2 separate regions of the Homo sapiens genome follow, and region 2 is linked to region 1. Evidence: fine-mapped expression QTL. A gene starts in region 1. The other region holds a variant in brackets. All regions are shown on one strand. Distances are between the middles of the regions.

What was found. PIP is the estimated chance that this variant, and not a neighbour inherited with it, causes the effect.
Region 2: its variant is fine-mapped to the expression of RAB4B-EGLN2 in monocytes after LPS (Fairfax 2014, PIP 0.95). The same link has a PIP of 0.9 or more in monocytes, monocytes after interferon gamma and neutrophils.

The regions. Positions count from the first base shown.
Region 1 is chr19:40,776,769-40,779,664 of GRCh38, reverse strand. RAB4B-EGLN2 (RAB4B-EGLN2 readthrough (NMD candidate)) reads right to left here and starts at 1,446. Exons shown (of 12, transcript NR_037791.1): 1 at 1,274-1,446. It overlaps MIA (MIA SH3 domain containing), which reads right to left. Exons shown (of 4, transcript NM_006533.4): 3 at 2,586-2,696; 4 at 2,175-2,268. The coding sequence ends at 2,245. It overlaps RAB4B (RAB4B, member RAS oncogene family), which reads right to left and starts at 1,418. Exons shown (of 8, transcript NM_016154.5): 1 at 1,274-1,418. The coding sequence starts at 1,289. It overlaps MIA-RAB4B (MIA-RAB4B readthrough (NMD candidate)), which reads right to left. Exons shown (of 10, transcript NR_037775.1): 3 at 2,586-2,696. RefSeq lists enhancers at 1-347, 1,235-1,304 and silencers at 1,365-1,604, 2,155-2,284.
Region 2 is chr19:40,798,509-40,801,404 of GRCh38, reverse strand. It overlaps EGLN2 (egl-9 family hypoxia inducible factor 2), which reads right to left and starts at 2,214. Exons shown (of 6, transcript NM_080732.4): 1 at 2,143-2,214; 2 at 1-1,066. The coding sequence starts at 832. RAB4B-EGLN2 (RAB4B-EGLN2 readthrough (NMD candidate)) reads right to left here. Exons shown (of 12, transcript NR_037791.1): 8 at 1-1,066. RefSeq lists an enhancer at 1-453 and silencers at 1,877-1,926, 2,077-2,436. The variant CAGAG/G (reference allele first, on the strand shown) is at 1,513.

The DNA of each region.
Region 1 (2,896 bases):
TTCAAGCAATTCTCCTGCCTCAGCCTCCCGAGTAGCTGGGATTACAGGCATGCGCCACCACACTCAGCTAATTCTGTATTTTTAGTAGAGACGGGGTTTCTCCATGTTGGTCAGGCTGGTCTCAAACTCCCGACCTCAGGTGATCCGCCTGCCTCAGCCTCCCAAAGTGCTGGGATTACAGGCATGAGCCACCGCGCCCAGCCCACATGTGCAGGTTTGTTACATGGGTCAATTGTGTGTTGTTGTGGGCCAGGAACAGTTCTAAAGGTCTTTACTCACATCAACAGCTCACATCATCCTCAGGAAAACTCTATGAGGGAGGTAGACTAAAAATTATTCCCATTTTCCGGATGAGGTAACAGGCCAGAAAGGTTAACTGACTTGCCCAAAGTGACACAGCTGGGCAGAAGTGAGATTCAAACCTAGGCCAAGGGCTCCAGAGTCCCAGATCTTAGCTATTTTGTCGCTAAAGTCTCTTGAAAGCTATTTAAACAAGGACTACGATATAGCCCTTGTTCCTCTTCACCTCCTACCACCCTCTGACTCATTCACTCCACTATAGCTCCTGACCTTCAGTCTATTCCCTGAAAATGACAAGCTGGTTCTCACCTCAGGGTCTTTGCACTCTTCTCCCTTCTCTTCTATATTTGTTGAGTGAATGCGGCTCCCTCTGACTCCTAAACCTGCACTTCCCCTGCCTCCAATCACCACCTCCTATGGTGCATCCCTACTGATTTTCCACTTCCCGACCTCTCCTTCCCTCCCTCTGCCCAGAACCCGGCTCCATTCTCATGCATAAGTCCCACCCTTTGCCACTAAGTCCTGCCCCTAACTCAAGGACAGCCCATCCCCAAACCCATTCCAGAGCTCTCTCCAGCCAGATCAGCCCCAGGGTCCCGAGCTTCCATTCAGTGTTCCCTCTAGCCCATAAGCCCGACTCCTGCCATTCATGCAGTCAGCCCCGCCCCTTCACTCAGGCTCCGCCCAGATCCATTAAGGCCCACCTCTTCCCTCAGGGCCTCCCTGAACCCCTCAGGACCAGCTCCCTCAAATCCCGCCCCAGATCTATTTAACCCACGCACCAGACCCTCAGGCTCCACCTAAATCGATTAAGCTCAGCCTCAGACCCACTAAACCCCTCCCAGCATCCACTTAGGTCCTGCCTCCATCACACCAGACCCCGCCCCCTGATCTACAAAGCCCCGCCCATTCCCACAGGCCGCATCCTCCCTGGGCCCAGACCCAGGACCCCAGCTTCGTCCACCACCCTCACCGTAGGTCTCAGCCATGACTCGGTCGCGGCCGCTGAGGGCCGCAATATGGCGCCGCGGCCGCGCCTGCTCCTCGGCTGGCAGCCGCTCCACTCCGGCTACAGCCCCGGCTCCTTCCTACTCCCCGGGCCCGGCACCGCCACTTCCGCCTCCGCCCCCCTCCGGCGCGACCCGCTCCGGCAGCTGGATACCAGGCGACGCTTTCCGAAGGGCGGGATTGGCGGACTCGCGGGCAGGGGGCGGGACAAGAGGCGCGGATTGGTGGCGTGAGAAGGACCAAGCCCAAAGGGGCGGGGCCGAGCCCAGCGATTGGCTGAGCAAGTGGGAAGGGACGTGCAGAGCTGCTTAGCTGAGCCGAGGAACGGATTTAGTCTGGAGTACGGGGGGCAGAGTCGAGTCTCCGGATTGGATCGGAGCGGACTTGGGGGAGGGGATACAAATGCAAAGAAGGGGGCACGGGCAGGATTGACAGAAAGAGGCTGGAAGAGGAGCTGATCTTGAGCTGGCGGGAGCGATTACTGTTCTCAAAGGCGAAAAGGAGGAAAACTGGGCAGATAGGCGCAGGTTACTTCCCACCTCCCTTTCCAGATAATCTTCCAAGAAAACCTTTACTGTGCGATTTATATCCTCCGCGTAGTCCGATTGGCTCCCTCCCACTGGTCTAGAGAGGACACTACAATCCCCTAGTTGGGCTGCTTAGGTTTTCCTTTGCTTGTGTCCGAAACCTAAGCTTAGGAGCGCTCCTACTGCACAGGGCTTTCATCAGTGAAACTCTGCCTAGCAACCACTGACGTTACCACAGGCAGCGGGTTAATTGGTTAGATTCAGCAACCTAGAGAAACATTTCATTTGTACAGTCCCCACCCTACCCTACCCCACCCCAAAGACCACGGAGACGAGCCGTTTGCACTGGGCTGATTGTATTTGCATAAAGCCAAGGAGGGGAAACGGCAGGGCCAGCGGTAGGCTGAGCTCACTGGCAGTAGAAATCCCATTTCTGAAAAAGAGAAAGGGGAAACAGTGGAAAGAAAACCAGCGGTCACACCACAAAGGATCTAGTGGTTTTAGCAAAGGCTGCAGCTGCAGGGCCCAGGTCTGGCCACACAAGTGCTATGCAAATTAGCCTAGAGCCCTCTAATCTTTGCACCTCCCAACTGGACCCATTTTACTGGTGAGAAAATTGAGGCAGGGAAAGAATTTCTCCCAGCGCACATACCTAGGCTGCCAGGGAGCCAAGTGTGGGAGCATTTTTGCCCATCCCCACAACCTAAGGGTCCTCCCCCCACATTTCTTGCCAGCCCCCATGACACTCACGTCTGTCTTCACATCGACTTTGCCAGGTTTCAGGGTCTGGTCCTCTCGGACAATGCTACTGGGGAAATAGCCCAGGCGAGCAGCCAGATCTCCATAGTAATCTCCCTGAACCTGGGGAAGAGGAGTTAAAAGCTAGGGTCTGGGAAGATGGCAAGCTTGTGCCTGCTGAAGGCCTTTGCATTCTCCCTTCTCCCTGATCTCCACATAACTGCTCCATCCTTGTCATATGAATCTCAGCTTAAATGCCACCTGTTCAGAGGCCCTTTCTGAACACCCAAGTAAGTCTCTGTTAATTCTCACAGCAGCGCATA
Region 2 (2,896 bases), 22 kb before region 1:
CGTTGATGACATAGCTGCCCAGCCGCCCTGCGCAGTGGCGGATGACGGCGTCCACATGGGCCATGAGGGCACCAATGCTTCGACAGCCTGGTTCATGGCCTTCCACCCAGGCAATCTGGTCCCCACGGATGCTGCGCGGCGGGATCGCCCTCTGGCTCACTAGCTGCCCGTCTCGCAGGCGCCCACCCCGTTTGAGGGCCTCCACCTCGGCCAGCACGCGACCGCCCAGTGCTGCCCCCAGGAAGCTGTCCTTGACGCAGATGCCGTAGTACCGCATGCAGGGCACGATATAGTCCAGGGCCAGGCGCTCGGGCGCAGAGGGCAGCGCCTCCTCCATCAGCCCAGCACTGGCCTCACCACTGCCACTGCTGCAGCTGCAGCTCATGCCACCCTCCCGCTCTGCCTCCTGGTTCTCTTGCCTGGCCCAGGGCCGTTTGCTGGGTGAAGGGGCATCCCCACCATCCTCGGCCCATTTCCGTTTGGGGGCCTCAGGCCGTGCGCCCTGGGCTGCCAATCGCTGGCACCCCTTGGTGACCAGCGCTGCAGCGCCTTCACTCTGCAGCGGCCGCAGCTCACCACCATCCTGCCCGCCAAAACCGTCCCGAAGAGGGCTGGCAGTGGTAGAGGTGGCTGTGGCTCTGGGGGTCCCACTCCCTGCCGAGGCCTCACTAGGCACTCCTGGACAGTGGTAGGAGGGGAGCAGGGGACAGGGCAGGTAACTCTCCACTCCCATCCTGGCCCGGCCAGGCTCAGGCTCCAAGGGCTCTGACGAAGACCCTGGTAACTGAGGGAGAGCCTGACTTAGGGGCTGCGGCTGGCACGGGCTGTCCATGGCAGCAGTGTCTTCATCCCCCGGGCATGGAGGGCACCGCCCGGGCCCATGGTGCCACCCTCCTCCGCCTCCTCCTCCGCCTCCACTTGATGCAGCTGGGGGCCACCGGGCCTGGCGTGGGGCAGGGTGAGGCAGGGCAGACAGCAAGAGCTCTTCTCGTGCCCTGGGGGTTGCTTGCTGGTCCCCAAGTCCTCTGCGGTCCCTAAGGGCTTGGGAAGGGACCCTTCAGGGTGGCTAGAGAAAGGAAAAAAAAAAAGGGATGTGAGAGAAACTAGAGACAGGCAGGCAGGGGAAAGCCGGGATGGTATGGGCAGGAGTGGGGAAGACGACCAGGACAGACTTGACTATAGAGGCCCCCCAAAACCTGAGGCCAAGTCGGGGAGAGGACCCTGAGAATCTGGAGGTGCGGGAGTCCGCTGACAGATAAGAGGCAGTGATAGGGAGAGGCTGGAGGCCAGGGGCTGGGTAGATGACCCTAAGACAGAGGACTGTGGTGCAGGTTGTGGGACGCGGTAACCAAAGACAGAAGAAGGAGGGCTGGAGTAGAAAAGGGTGGTGTGGAGGAGTGGGAAAGGAGGGGGTTTGGAAAATAGGAGGGACCTGCCTCGGCGTTCCAGAAAGACAACGAGAAACGTGGGGGTTCCAGGGAGAGTCAGGGTGGGGGCGGGGGGGTCAAAAGA[CAGAG/G]GAAACTGGGGAGTCCAAAAACAAAGAGAACGAGGGGCCCAGAGACAGAAAAATAGACCGGAGGGAAGCTGGGAGGGAGGACCCGGGGCGGAGCGGGACGGTGGGGTCGACCCGAGCCCGACGGGAGGAAGCCGGCCGGGGGCGGACACACGCCCAGACGGAAGGGAGGTCCCGAGACTGACCGACGGGAGGGGCCCTCGGGGAGAGGGTCCGCGGCGACAGAGGAAAGGACGGAGGAGGGTGCACGCACCCGGAGACAGGACGAGAGATAAAGGTGCCCCCATCCAGGGCACCCCAACGCCCCCAACCCGGGGCAGGCCCTGAGGCCCCTTCTGAGCGCAGTAGGCGACAGGGGCAGGGCCTAAGGGCCGCTCGGACCCCCTCCCCTCCCCCTCCACTCGGCCTCCGCCCGGCGCGCGCTCCCCGCCCCCACCCCAACCCCCACAACGGCCGGCACCCAACGTAACCGGCGCGCGTCCCCTCCCCCGCGCCGCACCCACATCCCCCTTCCCGGGGTCGCCCCGGCAGGCCCCGGCGCGCGCCCCCACACCCCGCCCGGTTCGCGCCGGCGCCCCGGCTCCGGCTTAGTCTCCTCCCGCTCCCTTCTCGCCCCGCGACCTCCTCACCGAGCTTTTTCCTCCGGCCCCGGCGCCGCCGTTTGTGCCAGCCGCCCTGCGCCGCACAGCGCGCCATACCCCGCCCCCACCGCGCGCGACGCCCCGCCCCGCCTCGCCCGGTGGGCACGTGACCGCGCCCCGCGGAGGGGACGGCGCCTGCGCAGGCCCGAGCCGCGCGGGGCGGGGCGGAGCGGGGCGAGGAAGTTCGGGACAACCCCCCTACCAAGGAGAAAGGAAACAGCGGTCCGTGGCCTACACGAGGTTCATTTGCATCCTCCGCCCCGCCCCCTTTGCGCGGGAGGGGGAACGCAGTGTGAGGGGCCGGGTCTGGGAGGGGGCGTTTCTTGCATGTTGGAATCAAGTGGCGTCGGCGGGGCGGGGCACGCAAATGATGTGATTTACATGGACAGGCCTACCCGCCCCCCGCCCAGCGCGGGGCACCGAGTTCGGCAGCGCGGTGCGCGTGACTTCATTTACATGGTCAGCTCCTCCTCCTTCTCGCCGTCCAGGAACGGAGGTGAGAGACGGAGAAATGGCTACGCAGTTAGTTGAGAAATGTATGTAAATTCGCACGTCAGTAATTTACATAAGTATCTTTTATAACGGAGGCAAAAAAGTGCGGGTTGCCCTTGAGAAAAGGGAACGCGGACTAGAAGGGATGTGCAAATGTGTATTTTCAAGACCCGCTCCGGCCTGCCCCCTCGGGACGATTGTGGGAATCAGAATAAAGAACCAGGGAAAGTCTGGGCAACGGAGTGAGACC